Regions from separate parts of the Homo sapiens genome. Here region 2 is linked to region 1. The links come from fine-mapping of genetic effects on gene expression. A gene starts in region 1. The other region holds a variant in brackets. All regions are shown on one strand. Distances are from middle to middle.

The links. PIP is the estimated chance that this variant, and not a neighbour inherited with it, causes the effect. A credible set is the group of variants that fine-mapping cannot tell apart.
Region 2: its variant is the best candidate, but not a certain one, in a credible set for the expression of POLR2H in monocytes (Quach 2016, PIP 0.66).

What each region holds. Positions count from the first base shown.
Region 1 is chr3:184,355,851-184,366,331 of GRCh38, reverse strand. POLR2H (RNA polymerase II, I and III subunit H) reads right to left here and starts at 4,622. Exons shown (of 6, transcript NM_006232.5): 1 at 4,186-4,622; 2 at 2,767-3,459; 3 at 1,283-1,366; 4 at 1,106-1,199. The coding sequence starts at 2,839. CLCN2 (chloride voltage-gated channel 2) reads left to right here and starts at 4,727. Exons shown (of 24, transcript NM_004366.6): 1 at 4,727-4,915; 2 at 7,201-7,357; 3 at 7,519-7,650; 4 at 8,022-8,150; 5 at 8,237-8,370; 6 at 8,476-8,553; 7 at 8,634-8,712; 8 at 8,845-8,970; 9 at 9,066-9,150; 10 at 9,238-9,339. The coding sequence starts at 4,853. LOC124906311 (a long non-coding RNA gene) reads right to left here and starts at 6,005. Exons shown (of 3, transcript XR_007096193.1): 1 at 5,575-6,005; 2 at 5,382-5,468; 3 at 5,021-5,113. RefSeq lists enhancers at 2,183-2,252, 2,613-2,732, 6,070-6,581, 6,582-7,095 and silencers at 2,953-3,132, 3,193-3,462, 3,533-3,802, 4,363-4,952.
Region 2 is chr3:183,755,742-183,766,222 of GRCh38, reverse strand. It overlaps YEATS2 (YEATS domain containing 2), which reads right to left. Exons shown (of 31, transcript NM_018023.5): 12 at 9,534-9,695; 13 at 7,258-7,361; 14 at 4,609-4,716; 15 at 3,944-4,126. Among named protein-coding and RNA genes, the nearest start is that of YEATS2-AS1, 49 kb to the left of the region's middle. The variant T/A (reference allele first, on the strand shown) is at 6,236.

The sequences.
Region 1 (10,481 bases):
TGGTAACTAAATGCCAGCATTATAACAACAGGCACATTACAAACATGATGTCATTTAGTCCTCATGGCAACCCCATGAGCTAGGCATGACCATCTCTATTTTATTGATGAGGAAACAGGCTGAAGGAGATTAAGGTTACTCAACAAATAAGTGGTAGAGCTGAGAAATGAACTCAAGTGGGGTGCCAAAGTCTTTCCATCACACCAAGCTCCCTCCCAAGACACAAGACCCACATGGCCTAGGTCACTCAGCAGTTACCTCCTCAGCCTTCAAAAGGCTGCAACTCACAAGCATGTAATCACTGTTATAGATAAATACCTGGTTGTTTGAATTTTTTTCTTTTTTTTTTTTTTTTTGAGACGGAGTCTCGCTCTGTCGCCCAGGCTGGAGTGCAGTGGCGGGATCTCGGCTCACTGCAAGCTCCGCCTCCCGGGTTCACGCCATTCTCCTGCCTCAGCCTCCCAAGTAGCTGGGACTACAGGCGCCCGCCACTACGCCCGGCTAATTTTTTTTTGTATTTTTAGTAGAGACGGGGTTTCACCGTTTTAGCCAGGATGGTCTCGATCTCCTGACCTCGTGATCCGCCCGCCTCGGCCTCCCAAAGTGCTGGGATTACAGGCGTGAGCCACCGCGCCCGGCCCGAATTTTTTTCTTTTTTTTTGAGACACGGTCTTGCTCTGTCACCCAGGCTGGAGTGCAGTGGTGCAATCATGGCTCACTGCAGCCTCAACCTCCCTGGCTCAGGCAATCCTCCCACCTCAGCCTCCCAGGCAGCTGGGACTACAGGCACATGACACCATGCCCAGCCTTTTTTTTTTTTCTCTCTTCTTTTTTGTAGCAGTGAGGTTTCGCTATGTTGCTCAGGCTGGTCTTGAACTCCTGGACTCAAGCAATCCTCCTGCCTCGGCCTCCCAAAGTGCTTGGGTTACAGGTGTGAGCCACGGTGCCTGGCCTGTTTGAATTCTTAAGTGCAGAAATTTCCTTAAGGTTACTCAGATTCTGCTGATCATCATTTATTCCAGGAATTTTAGAAGAGTCTTTCTATATCACTTATCTACTTAGTCCTCAAGGCATATTTCAAGTATTACCTTCTCCACTCCCTCACCTGGAAGGCCTATCATCAGTGGGGTTGTATTCACCATCATCCAGGGTACCATCTTCATACAAGGTACTAGCTATGACCAACCGAAACTTGTCACCTGAAAATAACAGCAATATCAGAGAGTAAAGAATAGCAGAAGCAGCAAAAAGTCTCTTATTATTGTCTGTATTCAATACTTACCCAAGTCTACAGGGTAAATTTGAATGTTTACATCTAAGATTAGATCCATCTTGAAAGATTCACTCTCACAATGCAGTCGAGACACTGGGGAGAAGCAGGAAAAGAGTGACAGAGGTATTGCCAAGGCAGATCCTACAGTGTGGGATTGTATGCAACAGGATACTCAATCTAACCCAGTCTACATCCAGTGGTCTCTCATCTGCTCTCATAGAAATTCAGGCTCAATCAGAACCAGATATGCAAGAAGGAAAAGGGGAGAAAAACTGTGGCAAGCGAACGTAATCCCCAGAAAACAACCAAAGATACTCCAGCAGCAAAGCCTGCCTGGATGACTGAGAACCTGACTCTGGGCAAGTTATTCAATCATCCAAAGGTTTTCTCTTTCTATGCTAGGCACTGTGCTGAGGGGAGTGACCAAGATGTATAAGAACTGGTATCCGTCTTGAAAAACATCTTAGTCTCCAGGCAAAGAAAGAGACATCAAAGAGAAAATTATTGATAGATGACAAAATAAAGAGGTGTAGGCCGGTGCAGTGGCTCATGCCTGTAATCCCGACATTTTGGGAGGCCGAGGCAGGTGGATCATTTGAGATCAGGAGTTTGAGACCAGCCTGGCCAACACGGTGAAACCCTGTCTCTACTAAAAATACAAAATTAGCCAGGCGTGGTGGCGCATGCCTGTAATCCCAGCTACTTGGGAGGTTGAGGCAGAGAATCGCTTGAACCCGGGAGACGGAGGTTGTGGTGAGCTAAAATCGTGCCACTACACTCCAGCCTGGGCAACAGAGAAAGGCTGCGTCTCAAAAAAAAAAAGGTATATACCAAGCAGCTAACTCTAACTCAAAGAAGACTTCACAAAGCGCTAAAGATTCTGAGGGCAATACAAGAATATAGGCTCTGAAGTCAGATTACTCGCTGTGAAGCCTTGGGTGGTTTACTCAACCTCTCAGAGAAAAATGGGAAAGGCACCACCCACCTCATGAGGACTGTCATTTTTTTGAGACGGAGTCTCGCTCTGCCGCCCAGGCTGGCGTGCAGTGGCGCGATCTTGGCTCACTGCAACCTCCGCCTCCCAGGTTCAGGCAATTCTCCTGCCTTAGCCTCCCAAGTAGCTGGGATTACAGGCGCCCGCCACCACGCCAGGCTAATTTTTGTATTTTTGGTAGAGACGGGGTTTCACCATGTTGGCCAGGCTGGTCTCACAAGACAGTGTCTAGCACAGAGCAGGTAGCGATTATAAATATGCCTAGGAGTTTGCCAGCACCATGACAAAAGGCCACCCAGGCACCGGGCACGGCATGCGTGAAGCCAGAGAGAGCTCGGGAGTCTCCGTTTTCTCATCCATAAAATGTTTACTGAGGGAGGTCCCTACACCAGGACCTGCTGGTAGGGGCAGGCCACAAGAGCTGGGTGGACACGGGGCCCAGGGGCATGTCCGCGAGGTTAGCCTCTTCCTCCAAACCGCCCCTACATACCTTACTTACCTCGGTCAAACTTCTTGCCCTCCGGGTCAATATCCTTCACATCGAAAATATCCTCAAACAGGATGCCCGCCATCGCGAGGGGGCCACGAGAGCAGCAGAAGGGGTGAGAGCGCGACCACAGTTGGGAGTACGTGCACCCCCTAGCGTGGACAAGACCGGAGAGAACCAAAAGCACCTCCTGAAAGCGCGGCGGCCAGACGAGAGTGGCGCATGCGCACAAACAAGCGGTAACGCGACCACTTCCGCCACAGCCTCCCGCTCGGGGCTACTTAACTTCCGTCCCGAAAGATTGCTTCCGAGAGGCTTCGGCATTGAGGGCGGGTCTCATGTCCAGGTGGCTCTGCCCAGGGCGGGGAAGCAATAGGCTGTAGAGCGGGTTCTCGCGCTCCGCTGGGGCCCTACTGCGCCCTCTTCAGAGGCCGGGTTCCGAAGACTGGAATGCGTGGGGGCCTAACCCAGGCAGGGACCTTGATCCTTGGCCCAGAGAAGCCGGGCCCTAGCCCTACCCCGCCGGTCCGCGTGCCCGCCGAGGGCACAGTCCGCGCCGAGGGCAGGTGGAGCAGAACCCCGCCCCAGAGGTGCCCAGCCCCTCCAGCCGGCACCGAGGACCCCGGGGCCGGCCTGGGCCGGCTCGGCCCTGCTGGACGTAACCCGAGCCGGATCCGTCCAGTTTGGGAATTTGCCATGACGTCGCTATGGAGAAGAGGAAAGCCTGCATTGTCCCCTCCTCTCGTACTGCACCCTCCCACCACTGCCCTCCCTCTTCCCCCCAGGCCCTGCTCTCTTCCCCTACACCGCCCCTTCAGCCGGGCTCCCGCCACCCCCCTCCCCCGGGCATTACCCCTCCAGCTTAGTGCTGCGCGTTCCCCCTCCACTGCCTTCTCCTGGACACGGATCCCCTCCGTGCCCCTTCAGCCTGGCACTGCCCTGTCCCTTGGATACCAGCTCTTCCCTCACACTGGCCCTTCCTCCTGAGTGCTGGCTTCTATCACAAGGCCCCCCCTTCCCGGGCACTGCTCCCGCCCCCTGAGCCCCGCCTCTGCCTCCCAAATGCCCCTTACTCCTGGTGCTGGCTCTCCCGCACACTTGTGCGTTTCCTGGGCGCTGCCCTCGCTCCTCTCACACTATCTCTACGCTGCCCATCCACCCTGCGCGCGCTCCGCCCTCTGTTCTATCCTTCCCCAGCCCCTGATAGAGAACCCAGAACACCAGCAGGCAGTTCCCCCAAAGCGGAGGGATGGAAGCAGCGACTTGGGTTCCTCCTTGGGCCCAGCCAGGGAGAAGCGACCCACGCCCGCGTCCCAGGAGTAGACTTCCCGGCACCTGGAGCTCCCTTCCCTCCGGCCTACCCCTTCCGGTGCCCTCCCCAACCTCCACCCCCGCACACCCCGCAGGCCCGGTTGCTCCAAGTGCACCTACCCACGGGAGCCCCGAGAAAAGGAAGGATGAGGAAGACGGCCCCAACCCTCTCCGAATCCTTCCAGCTTTGCTTTTCACCCCTGACGGGGCAGAGGGGCCTTCCCAGGCCTGTCTGGGCCGCTCGTCTCTTCGGAGGGGCAGAGGGGAGGCGGCTCCTAACGGGCTGACCCGGAGGAGTCCGATGTAGACAGCTCCGCAGCCCCCAGCCCCAACCCCTACGGAGCTCAGGCGTCTGCAGCCCCTCCTGCCTGGGCACGGGGAACCGCGAACCCGGGCCGGCCCCTCCACGTGCCAGTAGACCCGCCCCTCCCGGGCGCCCCTCTCCGACCCGGGCATCCGCAGGGAGCCGGCGCGGGCTTGCGCCTTCCCAGCGCCCCTTGCCGCCTCTCGGGAGGCCCCGCGCGGACCCCAGCCTGGCTGGGCCGTCCCCTCCGGATGGGCCGGCGGGCGGAGCAGCGCAGAGGGCACCGCCCTCGGCCCGCCCGCCGGGGAGGGGACGCGAGCGGGAGGCTGCGCCAGCGGCGCCCGCCGGGGGCCCGCCGCACTCTGCTCTCGGCCTCCCGGGCTGCGGGGACGGGACGGCTGCCGGCGCGGACTTTGCGGGCCGGGAGCCGAGTCCAGGACAGAGCCGGAACCGCCGAGGGAGGCGAGAGGGCAGTGCGCGGAGATGGCGGCCGCGGCGGCGGAGGAAGGGATGGAGCCACGGGCGCTGCAGTACGAGCAGACCCTGGTAAGTGAAGCTGAGCTGAGCCCCAGGAGTGCGCTCCGGGACCCCTGCTCCAGGTTACCCTGGGAAGCGCGAGGACCAGGGGCCTACCCTAATCCTGTCCTAGCATTTTGAGCTGGGGAAACTGAGGCTTGGAAGTCTGAGGCTGCAGGGCCGAAGGGATGGAAAACTGCATGCTGGTTTCTGGCTGAGGCTGAGGGCCTGCAGAGGACAAGGACACCAGGTACTTGTCTCAGGTGTCCTTCCCCTCACCCCACAACATGCACGTTTTCTTTGCACCTCCCCTTCACCACCTGGGCCCAAGTCTCAGCACCCCACTGCCCCTTCCGCGGCACCATTCACACCATTGAACTTTCTCTACGCCACTATCTCCACCACCCAAGACATTCTCTGTGTCCCTGCCATGTGCATGGCACCATGCTAAGCATAGAATCGAGTGTGTAGAAAGATGGTCAGCCCCAGACCCTACCTCTGGAGGCTCCACACCCAGCGTTGGCTCCAGGAGCCCCTCAGTTGACTCTGGAAAAAGGTGGCTTGCCACTCTGGGGGACAGGAGCTTTAGGGAGGGTGGGTGAAGCAGGAATGGGTGTGGGAATTGGGACCTTTGTCTATGCTGATGCGGGGTATCCAGCCCCCACCCACCCCAGGGTGTGTCCCCTGACCTCATTAGAAGCAGGGGTCCTGGGCTCTGAGCTGACTTATCGCCCCCATTGTTACTTGGTGTTTGAGAAGCCACGTGACCCTCCTCATGTCACTGGGGTGGAAGACCCAAGCCCTAGGGAAAGGAAGGGGCCCGTGGTTCCTTTTTACCAGCTTGGGCTGGAATTTGCCCAGGAAGGTGGCAGGGAGGGAACGTCTTGGAGAGGAGAGGCTATAAGTCTGGGAGGTGCCCAGTTAGGAGAAAGTAGCTGGATGAATCAGGATGTCAGGGAGAGGTGGGAGTAGAGCAAGGGTAGAGGGGCCAACCCTTGGGATGGGGTAGGAGACACTTGCCAATCTGCCCAGACCAGGATAGGAGCATGGTCAAGGAAGCCAGGCACCTGGCCTCTGAAATGGTGCCTCTTAACACCAGCCACCTCTCCATCTCCGTCCCTTCCAGCTGTCTCTGGAATGAGCTCTCAGGGTCGAGCTCTGTCCCGGGCACTCTGTGCTCCAGCCTGCTCCCGCCCCCCTTCACCATCCTATCCCTTTGTCTTTCTCTCCCACTCTCACCTCCCTCCTCCTACACCGTGCTTGCCTCTTAATACTCTCCATTCTCTTCCTCCTCCGTACTTCTTCCTCTCTCATCCCCTTCTTTCTCTTCTCCATCCCTTCGCCTTCCCTCTCTTTTCTCTTCTACTTTCTCCTCTCTAGTTCCCTCTCTTCTCTTTGCTTTCCCTTTCCTATCTCTCACCCTCTCTCTGTCTCTATCTTTCCCTCCCTCCCTCCCCCCCATCCCAGCCCCAACAGGAGCCCTTTGTGTCCCGAAGCTCTGCGGGTGGCAGCCAGAATCTACTCCTCCCCGCCCCCCAACACACGCCCAGCTTGGCAGGTCTAGCCATGGTTCAGGCGACTCTCCCGTCCCATCACCCCAGCATCCACAGTCACAGCCCAGCCATCCTCAGCCTCCGCTGTCCCCCAACCCACCGCTGGGCTCAGTGCAGCTCCAGAATGGGGCTGAGGCCACCAAGCCCTCTCCACCCACCCTAAGTGAGAGGCTTTCCACTCCCAGCTGGGCTGGCAGGCTGGTGGGGGTGGCAGTGGAGAATGGGGACAAGGGGATTAGGGTGGGTGGGAGAGGTGCAGCTGAGTTGGTCACAGGCCGGAGGCCCAGCAGGAACGTGATAAGGATTGGGGCTGCGCCTGCTCCTGGGCCCAACTCAGCTGCCCCGAGCTCCACGAGGCTCTTATTGTTGCCCATGTGCCCCTGATCATCCCTTACTCCCTGGCCTTCCCGCCTCCCACTTTTAGACTGTGCCACAGGTTTTTCCACCTTTTCCTCTTCTGGGGCTTCCCTCTCACTCCTCTTCAGTGCCCCAGCCCCAGGCCTGTGAGAAGAGGACCGATTATTCTGCCACCCCCAGAGCTGTGTCCCTGTACCTTGGCTGTCCCCATCACTCTGGCCAGGACAGCCTCCACAGTCTGCAATGTGCATTGTTCCCACACCTCGGGCCAGAGTGGGAACTGTGCGTTCAAGAGGGATATCCAGTGTGGGGGCTGGGAGAAGAGGAGTGGAGGCTCTAAGAACTCTCCCTGCGTTCCCACTCAGCCCATGACCTCGAATGCCCCCATCCCCTCTGTTGCTCCAGATGTATGGCCGGTACACTCAGGACCTTGGGGCCTTTGCCAAAGAGGAAGCTGCTCGGATTCGCCTGGGAGGGCCTGAACCCTGGAAAGGTCCCCCTTCCTCTCGGGCTGCCCCAGAGCTCTTGGAATATGGACGGAGCCGTTGCGCCCGATGCCGCGGTGAGAACTGGGGTGGGGGCAGGGGACCTGGCTGTGCTGTGCTGAGGGAAGCAGAGGCCATTAGAGCTGCTGATGGGGGAGAGGGGACAGTTGAGGGGGCAGTAAAAGGGGTAGGAGCACTTTGGTGCCATCCTCCCCCTTCTTCCCTTCCCTGCACCCAGTCTGTTCTGTCCGCTGCCACAAGTTCCTAGTATCCAGGGTTGGTGAAGATTGGATCTTCCTGGTCCTGCTGGGGCTTCTCATGGCATTGGTCAGCTGGGTCATGGACTATGCCATTGCTGCCTGTCTGCAAGGTGAGGGTGACAGCTGGCAGGGGGAGGACTGGGAATAAACCTCCTGCGTCCATGCCACACTCGTCTAGACATGGAGGAAGGCGTCTTGGCTTCTTGGCCACTGACCACTTTCCCCAGCCAGTCTGACTGCCCAGATTCAGGCATCATCTCGGCCACTCCCACAGGGCACAGCTTCTTGCATCCCCTCTCCAAGTGATCCTCTTGCCTAGATTGCGCTTTGTCCCAGTGAATACCCTCAGGGACCCTTTCCTTCACCCATGCCCTGACTCTGTGTGGTACTCCCTGGGACAGCCTGTCGTATCAGCGTGGTCCACTGGCCAGGCAGGCAGTGGGTGTGTGCACTGGGGGTCCAGCAGGTCCTCTTCCCACAGCCCAGCAGTGGATGTCCCGGGGCTTGAACACCAGCATCTTGCTCCAGTACCTGGCCTGGGTCACCTACCCTGTTGTCCTCATCACTTTCTCAGCCGGATTCACACAGATCCTGGCCCCTCAGGCTGTCGGTATGTTAGAAGAGAAGGGGAGGGCAGAGGCGGGACCCCTGAAATGGGTGCATCGAATGCCTCTCCTGAGACTGTTCCCTCTCCAGGCTCTGGCATCCCTGAGATGAAGACCATCTTGCGGGGAGTGGTGCTGAAAGAATACCTCACACTCAAGACCTTTATAGCTAAGGTCATTGGGCTGACCTGCGCCCTAGGCAGCGGGATGCCGCTTGGCAAAGAGGTAACTGCAGGCTGGGGAATGAAGGAGTCCCTCCTGGTGGAAGAGGAGGCCAGGCCAAGGTCAGGGCGGGCCCCCTCCCGACTCACCGCCTGCCCCACCCCGCAGGGCCCTTTTGTGCATATCGCAAGCATGTGTGCTGCCCTTCTCAGCAAGTTCCTCTCCCTCTTTGGGGGTATCTATGAGGTAAGGGGAACCCTGGGGCAAGTAGGGGGCAGAGGCTGCTGAGCCCACAGCTGACCCCCTCTTGCCACCACTCTCGCCAGAATGAATCCCGGAACACAGAGATGCTGGCTGCCGCCTGTGCCGTGGGGGTGGGCTGCTGCTTCGCGGCACCTATTGGAGGTAGGCAGGGCTCCTAGGTCAGTCCAGCCCCACAACCCTGCCCTTGGCCTCTCCTCCTTGGCCCCTCTTATCTGGGTCTGAGGCCTTAGGCCAGGCCCAGGCCTCAAGTGCTGGTCTCCCTCCCCCTCACAGGCGTCCTCTTCAGCATCGAGGTCACCTCCACCTTCTTTGCAGTGCGGAACTACTGGCGGGGCTTCTTCGCTGCCACCTTCAGTGCCTTCATCTTCCGGGTCTTGGCAGTCTGGAACCGGGATGAAGGTGGGGGCACCCAGGGGATGAGGGCAGCCCGAGATGGTGCCAGGTAGGGGGCCCACGAGGCTAGGCCTGCCTCCCTCTGCTGTTCTTCCCTTTAGAGACTATTACAGCCCTCTTCAAAACCCGATTCCGGCTCGACTTCCCCTTTGACCTGCAGGAGCTGCCAGCCTTTGCTGTCATTGGGTGAGGAGCTGAGGGGGCTGGGGGTATCAGAGAGGAGGGGGGTTTCTAGAAGGCTCCTTTTCACTCAGGTGCCTCTTCCCTTTCCAGTATTGCTAGTGGCTTCGGTGGAGCCCTCTTTGTCTACCTGAACCGGAAGATTGTCCAGGTGATGCGGAAGCAGAAAACCATCAATCGCTTCCTCATGAGGAAGTGAGTGGCTCTCGGCTCCTCTCCAGGCTGCTTTGAGTTGTATAAGGGCCACAGTAGGTCAGGGGACAGTGATGGGGAGAGAATGGCCCAGTCAAAACAGGCACTTCACTGAGAAATCAGCCAGCAGTGTTTTCCAGGCTGACTGAGCATTTTTATATTCATATGAATTACCTGAAAATTGGCATTTTTAAGTTTATAGTCAGCGGTAGAGGACATTTGGGAATCAAAGACTAAGGCCTCCTCAGGTCCTCTGGGCTGGCCCATATAGGAATGCTCCCTGGAGAGTGTTTGAGCCTCAGGTTCCCCCCATGACCCATGGGGATAGATGAGATCTCTTTTTTTTTTTTTTTTTTGAGACGGAGTTTCACTCTTGTTGTCCAGGCTGGAGTGCAATGGTGCGATCTCGGCTCACCGCAACCTCCGCCTCCTGGGTTCAAGCGATTCTCCTGCCTCAGCCTCCCAAGTAGCTGGGATTACAGGCATGCACCACCACGCCCGGCTAATTTTGTATTTTTTAGTAGAGACAGTTTCGCCACGTTGGTCAGGCTGGTCTCGAACTCCCGACCTCAGGTCTGCCCACCTTGGCCTCCCAAAGTGCTGGGATTACAGGCGTGAGCCACTGTGCCCGGCCGAGATTTTTTTTTTTTTAATCTCCAGAACACAGCTCTCTCAGTGTGACCCTGAGGATTGGGAGTGGGGAGGGCGAGACATGACTTCCCTTGGGACTGACATCCTTCAGAGAGAGGGCAGCCAGCTGAACCTGCTCCCTACGCACCTCTGGTCAACTTTACAAGTGACCCCAGCTTCCCCCAACATTGACCTTCACTCTAAGTCACTGCAGAGAGACAAAGAGAGGCAGAAACTTCTCCACCCCATCACACAATATGCCCTGATGGGCTTCTGAGGGTGGAGGGTGGAATAACAACTCGGAGGGCCCCAAGGGAGGGCTTGGAGGATGGACTTTCTGCTGCTGCTACCCACCTACAGAGTCAGGGGCTGACAGAAAGGTCTTTGGGTCAGACCCCTGCTCTTAGAATAACCCCAGTCCACCATCAGCCTTGGGGCTATCGTATCATAAACAGCAAAGGAGACCTTCTGTCAGGACTGAGTGTTTTCATGAAAGAGCCAAGGCTCTGCTCTGA
Region 2 (10,481 bases), 600 kb after region 1:
CTGCACAGGTTACACCAGTAATGAGTGGCTGAGATCTGAGATTTGCAACAAGCTCTAACTGCAAAGCTCATGCTCCTTCTACTTTAACACACTGCTTCCTTCCCATATGGAACTACTTATTCCTCAGTTGTCCCTTTTCATGTCAAAGGCAGCACCTCTTCCCACTTTGAGGAAAAAGATCAGCTGTGTTTCTGTTGTCCCAAAGTTGTATGGAGGGTAAAACAGTGCCATTTTTTGCCACCCTCCTGTTTCCTGGCATATCTTTTTTTTTTTTTTTAGACAGAGTCTTGCTCTATCTCCCAGGCTGGAGTACAGTGGCGTCATCTCAGTTCACTGCAACCTTGACCTCCCAGGTTCAAACAATTCTCCTGCCTCAGCCTCCCAAGTAGCTGGGATTACAGGTGCACACCACCATGTCTGGCTAATTTTTGTATTTTTAGTAGAGACAGGGTTTCACCATGTTGGCCAGGCTGGTCTCGAACTCCTGACCTCAGGTGATCTGCCCACCTCAGCCTCCTAAAGTGCTGGAATTACAAGCATGAACCACACACCCAGCCTGTTCTCTGGCATAGTTTCTAGGAATGCACTTCAGCAATAACCAGGAACAGTCTGTACTCACAGACAGCTCCTTATCTCAACTGCTAATCATGGATTCCATTTCCTGGGTAAACAGTGGTATCATCTCACGCACTACTGCTTCTCTGCAGTTCCTTCACACTTTGCTGTGGTTTTTCTTTTCAGATGCCCTTAAACCATATTTAGGGCATTGTGGCACAGACCCACCTATCTCCTCCAACCTTACATTTACCATTAAGTAGGTGGCCATGTGACAAGTCAGTACAGTTGTTCAGCATCACTGGAGGAGTGGATTGGCAATATGCAAAGCGGCAAAAAATGGAAACGAACTTATCCAAGAGCTTCTAACATAAACAGCAATGCTAAGTTGATTCAAAGCAGAAATCAGTAAAGCCACATATCCCTATGTGAAGCAAAACAGATTTTGAGGTACATATACGACAAGCCTGAGTAGGAAGTTCAGATGACAATAACTGATTTACTAAGGGATTTTGGCAGAATTCTTACCCCTGAAGCCAGAACCACAGTGGGAGCACTAGTAAGCAGTTGGGGATGCCTGTCTTAGTCATTCTGGCTACGAATGCCTCAAAGTCAAATGAGATGCTGTAGCACCATGATTCCTAAATCTGCTGCCTAAGTAGATGAATCAGCAGAAACACTTATTAAAAACCCAGATTCCCAGGGATCTCAAGAAGAATCCGATGCAGTAAGTTTGAGATGGTGGCCTAGGTAGCTATCAGCAGATGATTCTTATAACCAGGTAAGTCTGAGAAAGTCGTTAATAAACTTAACAGATTTTAGAACCACCGATAACACCACGAATTTTATTTTATTTTTTTGAGATGGAGTTTTGCTCTTGTTGCCCAGGCTGGAGTGCAATAGCAAGATCTCGTCTCACTGCAACCTCTGCCTGCCGGGGTCAAGCGTTTCTCCTGCCTCAGCCTCCCGAGTAGCTGGGATTACAGGCGCCCGCCACCACGCCCAAATAATTTTTTGTATTTTTAGTATAGACGGGGTTTCACTATGTTGGCCTGATCTCGAACTCCTGACCTCAGGCGATCCACCCGCCTTGACCTCCCAAAGTGCTGGAATTATAGGCGTGAGCCACTGCGACAAGCTCTATGAATTTTTAAGTTGATCCTAATCTCTATCTGATAGCTAAAATCTTTTTCGATTTTGGGCTATTCTTAAAACAATTCATTCTCCTTAGATAGGTAGGCTGGGTTTCAAGCTGAAAAACATCTATATGATATCTTTTTTTTTTTTTTTTTTTTTTTTAAACAGAGTTTCACTCGTTGCCCAGGCTGGAGTGCAATGGTGCGATCTCAGCTCACTGCAACTTCCACCTCCTGTGTTCAAGCCATTCTCCTGCCTCAGCCTCCTGACTAGTTGAGATTACAGGAGCCCGACACCATGTCCACCTAATTCTTGTATTTTTGGTAGAGACAGTTTCACCAAGTTGACCAGGCTGGTCTTCAACATCTGACCTCAGGTGATAACGCACGCCTCAGCCTCTCAAAGTGCTGGGATTACGGGCGTGAGCCACCGTGCCCAGCCATTGTTTTTTGTTTTTTTGTTTTTGAGACAGTCTCCCTCTGTCACCCAGGCTGAAATGCAGTGGCACAGTCTTGGCTCACTGCAACCTCCGCCTCCTGGGTTCAAGTGATTCTCCTGCCTCAGCCTCCCAAGTAGCTGGGATTACAGGTGCATGCCACCCACCACGCTCGGTTTTTGTATTTTTAGTAGAGATGGGGTTTCACCACGTCGGACAGGCTGGTCTCAAACTCCTGACCTGAAGTGATCTGTCCGCCTTGGACTGCCAAAGTGTTAGGTGGCTCACAGGTGTGAGCCACCATGCCGAGCCCATATTATATACTTAATAGCTTTAGAGTATACCTGCCAAAAGTTGAGGTAATTTAACCCTGATGCTCTGAAAGCATACCAAGGTTAGAGACAACCACTTTTCATTAGTTCTGAAATGGGGAGCTTGGAGTTAGCAGGCCTGACTTTAAACACTTTGTCATTTATTAGCTGTAATGCTCCCAAGGAAACTGTTTAACCTCTGAGCCACAGTTTCCTCATTTGTAAAACAGGGATGAAAATCCCCACCCTCCAGGGTTGTGTGTGGATTATAGAAAATGTAGAAATACAAGCATGGCATACACAAAAGCACTCAATATTGATACCATAGTCATCTACCACATTAACGATGTTTTAGTCAATGACAGACTGCATATATTAACAGTGGTCCCATAAGATTATAACACTGTATTTTTACAGTATCTTTTCTATATTTAGATATGTTGAGATCCACAAATACTTATTGTTCTATTACAACTTCCTATAGTATTCAATAGTAACATGCGGAACAGGTTTACAGCCTAGGAGCAATAGGCCACACCATACAGCCTAAGTGTGTAGTTAGCTATTCTATCTGGATTTAAGTACACTGCGATGTTCACACAACAAAATCACCTAATGACACGTCTCAGAATGTACCATCATCAGGTGATGCATGGCTACATTTCCAATTGATTCAGGAAAACATGGCTCTATGTGCTATTTTTTTTTTTAATTTTTTAATTTTTATTTTTTTGAGACAGAGTCTCTCTCTGTCACCCAGGCTGGAGTGCAGTGCCGCGATCTCAGCTCACCGCAACCTCTGCCTCCCAGGTTCAAGCAATTCTCCTGCCTCAGTCTCCCGAGTAGCTGGGATTACAGGCATGTGCCACCACACCCCGCTAATATTGTATTTTTAGTAGAGATGGGGTTTCTCCATGTTGGTCAGGCTGGTCTCGAACTCCTGCCTTCAGGTAATCCGCCCGCCTCAGCCTCCTAAAGTGCTGGGATCACAGGCGTGAGCCACCATGCCCGGCCTCTATGTGCTATTTTAAAATTCTCTCAATACATTAATTCTCCTGTACCTCCAAATTATTAAAAAAAAAAAAGAACTCTACAGAAAGCTAAGAATCATTAAACAGGTAACAGCCCGAACATCAGAGGTATAAACTACAGCATTCTCCTACCATAAATAAACAAGTCAACAGCGGATCCCTTTTAGAGATGAATCAAGTAGAAAGCTGTGCCCATGAGTCAGCTCTGCCTCCACTGCCAGAGACAGCAGTGTTCCCCTGCCTCTTGGCCCATTCCGGGATCCTTTGCAATACATAACGCGGCTCTTGCCAATGATTACTACAGGAGTAGAAGAGTTTCACACCAACAGACTTGTTTTTCCAACTAGGCTTTCACCCACAGGTTCTTATGGGATCATCAACCCTGTCACCGTGAATCTTTTCAGCACTTGTCAATTATTTAGGCAAACAACATCATTTACATGTGAAATTTCCCATCTCTACCCAACACAAACCTTGGAGGGCTGAACCTTTGCTGACTGGGCAATCCCTTCTCCAGGAGTTATGACCTGTTTTTGAGGGGACACAGCTATCATGTGACCCCCTTTCACAGTCACATACTGCGGGAGTGGTGACTGGCTGGCAGCTCCTGTTGCGGGCACGTGAGGGGCTTCACCAGGTTCCTGTTTGATGATCACCTTGCAACAAACATAATGACACTGAATAAACATCCATAAACATCCCATTTTATAAAGCTGCTAATATCTGACTCTTCTCCGTTTGCAGGGATTAATGAATTGATGAAACTTGATACGTAAAGAATGACTCCACCAGAAGGGTAAATATACATACTGCTTAAATACAGTCCATACCAGCTATTAAAGGGACCAAAAGTAGGATCTGAACTTGATCCTGTGCTCCTGTAATAACACAGTCACTTGTTTTAGAGACTGTGGCAAATGACAGCAGAGAGAAACAAACACACTGTGCTCCATGAATCCCCATCTTGCTGGACTCCAAGGGCTGCCCTGAGGACATCATTAAATACATGGAAGCACGTCTCAGAATGAGGAGTTGAGACCCACTAAAAAGTAACATGTTGTAGGGGTAGTGGCAATGAACTCCAACATGCCACAAAAAGTATTATGACTTGTGGGACAATGCCCTAATACATACTCACTTTTGTGAAAGCTCCAAGTCCTCCTGTTATAGGTTTGGGGCTTTGAACCTTAGGGTGACTCCCAATTGGGCAAAGAGGTGGCATAGATGCAAACAAAGAATCCTCCTGCTGTGTGTGTAAAAATACATATTTTACAATCAGGAGAAATGGGTGATTTCAGATATCTAGTCACTTATATTTAATACAAACCTGTGACATTCTCTAGCAATATAAAGAAATAAAAAGACTGGCTGGGTGCGGTAGCTCACGCCTGTACTCCCAGCACTTTGGGAGGCAGAGGTGGGTGGATCGCCTGAGGTCGGGAGATCAAGACCAGCCTGACCAACACGGAGAAACCCTGTCTCTACTAAATATACAAAATTAGCCGGGTGTGGTGGCGGGTGCCTGTAATCCCAGCTACTTGGGAGGCTGAGGCAGTAGAATCACTTGAACCAGGGAGGCAGAGGTTGTGGTGAGCCGAGATCACGCCACTGCACTCCAGCCTGGGTGACAAGAGCAAAACTCCGTAAAAAAAAAAGAAAGAAAAAAACCTAAAATTCCTTGGGGTCTTCCAAGCCTCTACACCTGCATTTTAATATTGTTTTAGAAAACAAATGCAAAGAAAAGCTGTAACTTGGCAAGAATCTACTCATCTGTGTCCTGCTGTACACTGGAAAGACTTCTAACTTACTACCCCTAACATTTGGCTGACTTTATTGGTCTTCCCCGATAGTTGGTAAACCACTAAAGGACAGGGACTGTATTTAATTTTATATCCCTGGAGCCTAGGCACTAAATAAATAAATGAAAGAAACAGGCAGCTGCAATGTTTCAGTATATACTCTCTTTTAATAGTACTCACAACTGATTTGCAAAATTTACTCAATGAACACCCAGAATACAAAGGAAAAATTTTCAATAAAAACTTAAAAAACAAGCAAACAAACAAAAAACTTGAATAATTTGGCACAGGCAAAGACAACGAAAGTCAACATTCAAAACTTCTGTAGTTCTGGCCAGGCGCAGCGGCTCACGCCTGTAATCCCAGCACTTTGGGAGGCTGAGGCGGGCAGATTACCTGAGATCAGGAGTTCGAGACCAGCCTGACCAACGTGGAGAAACCCCGTCTCTACTAAAAATACAAAATTATCCGGGCGTGGGGCGCATGCCCTGTAACCCCAGCTACTCAGGAGACTGAGACCGCAGAATCGCTTGAACTCAGGAGGCAGGAGGTTGCAGTGAGCCAAGATTGCGCCACTGCACTCCAGCCTTGGCAACGAGAGCGAAACTCTGTCTCAAAAAAAAAAAAAAAAAAAAAAAAATTCTGTAGTTTCTCTTTAATTCTCAAACACAAAATGCAAATCTCAGAGGTAATCTGTCAAAATTTGGAAACGAAGAACACTTCTTGGCTGTAAAGTAAAATGATCACCAACAAACAATAAAAATTAAACCAGCAGAGTTAAGACTTTCAAGATTACTATAATTCAGACATTCATATAACAGTGCCAACACACTGCACAGAACTTAGAGAACAGCCTCGCCTTGGACCAGGAAGTCATTCAATATCATCATTAGTGTCTAAATAAAAGAAATGCTGTGTCAGGCACCAGTCATTTGACTGGAACAGGTCAGATCATATTTGGAGTTG[T/A]AAATTTTAAAGGACTGCTTACCCAGAAAAAGGGGAGCAGGGGAGAGACTCTGTGGAGGTAAGCATTATTTTCAAATAGCTAAACGGTTAACACATGGAAAAGGAAACACTGATGCTCCCCGACTTAGGATGGGGTTACGTCTGGATAAACCCATCATAAGGGGAAAACATCATAGGCCAAAAGTGCATTTTTGACTTCCCACACTTTCACCGTATGGTGGGTTTATCTGAATATAACCCCAGCGTAAGCTGAGGGCTCGCTAAGTGCATATTGCTTTTGCACCACGGTAAAGTCGAAAAATCGTTAAGTTGGACCACTGTAAGGTGGGAGCCATTTGTATATTTACTTCTTGGTGATGCAAACATAGAAAAGATAGGAACGTGCTGTCAGATGAATGTTTTTATATTTTTAAATTTTTATTTTTTTTATGGGTTAAGGAGCAGAAAGTTTAATAAGCAAAAGAAAGGGGAGAGGACAGCAGCTCTCTGTTGCGAGAGAGAGAGGTGTCCAAAAGGGAAGAGGTCAGATGAATATTTTTATAAGCAAGTATTTTTAACAAACTTTTCAAATAAGTAAATAAATAATCTTATCACAGTAAGTTTTTAAATTGATACTGGGTGACTATTTCACACAAGTGTTGTGAAGCATTTGTGACACTATGAAAAGATCCAAGTAAGGTAGTAAAGTCTGGAGTAGATCCAAGTAAGTTAGTAAAGTCTGGGGGTAGTAAAGTCTAGATACTTAACAGCTTGAAGATTCCATTTTATGAAATTTGCGTCATCAACTGACACATTCTTGCTGAGGCTGAACATACTATGTTCAGAAACCGGCAAAGTGGCGGGGTGCAGCTCATGCCTGTAACCGCAGTACCCTGGCAGGTGAGGTGGCAGATCTCTTGAGGCCAGGAGTTCGATACAGCCTGGTTAATACGGGGAGACCCCATCTCCATTTGAAAAATTATTTTTTAAAAATGAAAAGAAAAAGAAGCTAGCAAAGTGTAATAACGCAGTAAGAATGTTACCTTGACAGTAGATGTTACAAAACTACTTCCATGAATTTTAGGAACAGGGGAACCTGTTCCTTGGGAGACCTGAGAAGCCGTGGAGATCTTGTTTGTAGGACTTCCTGATAAGCAAGGCACAATTAAAACATAAACAAAGTAAAATTTACAAAAGGTAATTTTAAAGCATTTCTACCATCCTCCCCTCTTTCGCACTATTTATTTTTCATGTTTAAGGGTTGAAAACTCATTGTTAAGGCTGAAACTAGTATGGAAAAAAACCCTTAAGGACCCATCCCTGTGAAGCTGATCTCATGCTCAACCTGAAGAAGGTAAGAAGCTGGTAAGGACATGCAGAAGAATAAGTAGTAAAGTCACTTGTTTTAGACTACTCCTTGTACAATAAACAGTAGCATATTCTCGTATATTCTACTCCTTATACAATAAAAGACACTATAACGTATTCTACTTGTATGTTCTACTCCTCATACAATAAAAGACACTACAACATAATGATACTGTTTAACAAATGTGCCAGAATATATGCATTCTGCTAGCTCCTTCAAAGTAGTTTCACCAGAAAGTTATGCCTATTCCAAAATGCTGCCAACATTATTATTTTTTTTTCCTGAGATGGAGTCTCGCTCTGTCACCCGGGGTGGAGTGCAGTTGCCTGATCTCGGCTCACTGCAACCTCCACCTACTGGGTTCAAGTGATTCTCCCACCTCAGCCTCCCCAGTAGCTGGGACTACAGGCACGCGCTACCACACCTGGCTAATTTTTCTATTTTTAGTGGAGATGGGTTTCGCCATGTTAGCCAGGCTGCTCTCGAACTCCTGACCTCAGGTGATCCGCCCACCTTGGCCTCCCAAAGTGCTGGGATTATGGGCATGAGCCACCACGCCTGGCCAACATTAAACATTTTATACTCCATCTGTACAACTGCCTTTAGAGTCTGAAAAAAATTTAGTCATATATTACCTATAGTCAACAAGTCAAGACCCCAAATAGTATTTAATCATTTACTCCATTTACCAAACTTGCCTCCAAAGACTTCTAGCTGATTCCTAAAACAAAATGTCATGAAATAACACCTATTTGGCATCCTTAAGTATGTTCGAAAGGTACTGGGTAAGCCTTGAACACAGTAATTTTTAAGGGCATTCCACAATTACAATCACTATTAAAATTTAGCCTTTCCAAAAAAAAAAAAAACTGCTTGGAAAAGCCCAACATACATTCATGTGTTAAATCCAATAGGTCAAACAAACAACAACAAAAAAATCAGTCTCATTATCTTATAATCATCCCTTTTATTTCATTTATCTTCTATTTCTCTTAATTAGAAGTGAAAACTTCAGGGAAGTTTATAGTTAGGAGCGTGTGTTTAAATACAGGTTGAATGGGGCCAGGCGTGGTAGCTCACGCCTGTAAATCCAGCACTTTGGGAGGCTGAGGCAGGTGGATTGGAGTTTGAGACCAGCCTGGCCAACATGGTGAAACCCCATCTCTACTAAAAATACAAAAATTAGCTGGGCGTGGTGGTGCACGCCTGTAATTCCAGCTACATGGGAGGCTGAGGCAGGAGAATTGCTTAAACCCAGGAGGTGGAGGTTGCAGTGAGCCGAGATCACGCCACTGCACTCCAGCTTGGGTGAAAAGAGCAAGACTCTGTCTCAATAAATTAATAAATTAATTAATTAACAATAAATACAGGTTAACTGAAGGGAATAAATAAAATAATGTTAGAGAAAGCATTTCAAAAAAACCTAAAAAGCATGGGATTACAGTGAGGAACACGGTGAACCCAAGGATGACTTTTTCCTATTAGAGTTCTCTTTAAAACTGCAGGTTTCAATTTCCCCTCCCACAAGCAGAATGGGTCTTCCTTGAAGAAAATAATATCATTTTTTATTTGACTGGGGAGAACGGTATGTGGCCCACAAGGTTAGCAAAAGCTTCTTTGGAAGAGGTAGTAACCACATTGCTTACAGTCCCCCAAAGCGTAAGTCTTCCAAATGAAAACAAAATCAACTATTCTTTTAAGAACATTCATTATGGCTTATTTTGAACTTTTAGAAATTAAAAGAAAACTCAAGTAAATTCTAAAAAATGCAACTTTTACAGAGTAAATCTCCCCTCAGAGAAAGAGTATTGGCTTTCCTTTTACTTATTCTCGCTTCTCGTTTACGGGAGATTTCATTCTCCAATTACATGGCTACCAAGTCATGGCAGGATTACATTTTTAATAAAGATCAAACCCTTTAGATGGTACAAATATGGATCTAATACACACCTGTACTGGGAGTGGTGGCTCCAATCACCTGCCCCGGCTGCTTGTCCATGATAACATAAGGATTATTAATAACAGAGCCGGCAGTGCCTTGCTTCACGTGGACTGGAGTGGAAGTCGGGGTTCGAGGCAATGGTGATGGGCTTGGAGTTGATATTGGGGAACCTTATTAATTAAAAAGAGAGAATACAAACAAAATACACATATTCAACTCACGTAAGAAGATGTCGAGGACAAGGAAGAAGGTCAGTGCCACCAGGACAAAGGTAACAAATTGGGAAAATAAAATGGATACTGCGTGCTCCCGGTACTGAGCAGCAACAGAGGTACAAAGGAGGCAGAGGATGTATGTTTCATGCTCTGCATCCTTATCCATGGATCAACAGCATCAGTATCATCGAGGAAATTGTAAGAAACAGATTTTATGGTCCCATCCTTGACCTACTAAACATAAATCTCACTTCAACAAGATCTCCTGGTATGCACCTTATAGTTCAGAAAGCAGTGCTTTACACAGCAGTGCAAAACTGCTGAACCTTTTTTTGTAACTGCTGAATCTTGATATGATAAATCTTTTAACACCATAGGCAGGCTTTTATAGTACTGGTTATACTCGAAGACACTAAAATTAGAGACCGGGCATGAGACACCAGGTGCAGTGGCTCGTGCCTGTAATCCCAGCACTTTGGGAGGCCGAGGCAGGCGGATCACCTGAGGTTGTGAGTTCGAGACCAGCCTGACCAACATGGAGAAACCCTGTCTCTACTAAAAATACAAAATTAGCTGGGTGTGGTGGCGCATGCCTGTAATCCCAGCTCCTCGAGAGGCTGAGGCAGGAGAATCGCTTGAACCCGGGTGGCGGAGTGAGCCGAGATCGTGCCATTGCACTCCAGCCTGGGCAACAAGAGCAAAACTCTGTCTCAAAAAAAAAAAAAAAAAAAAAAAAAAAAA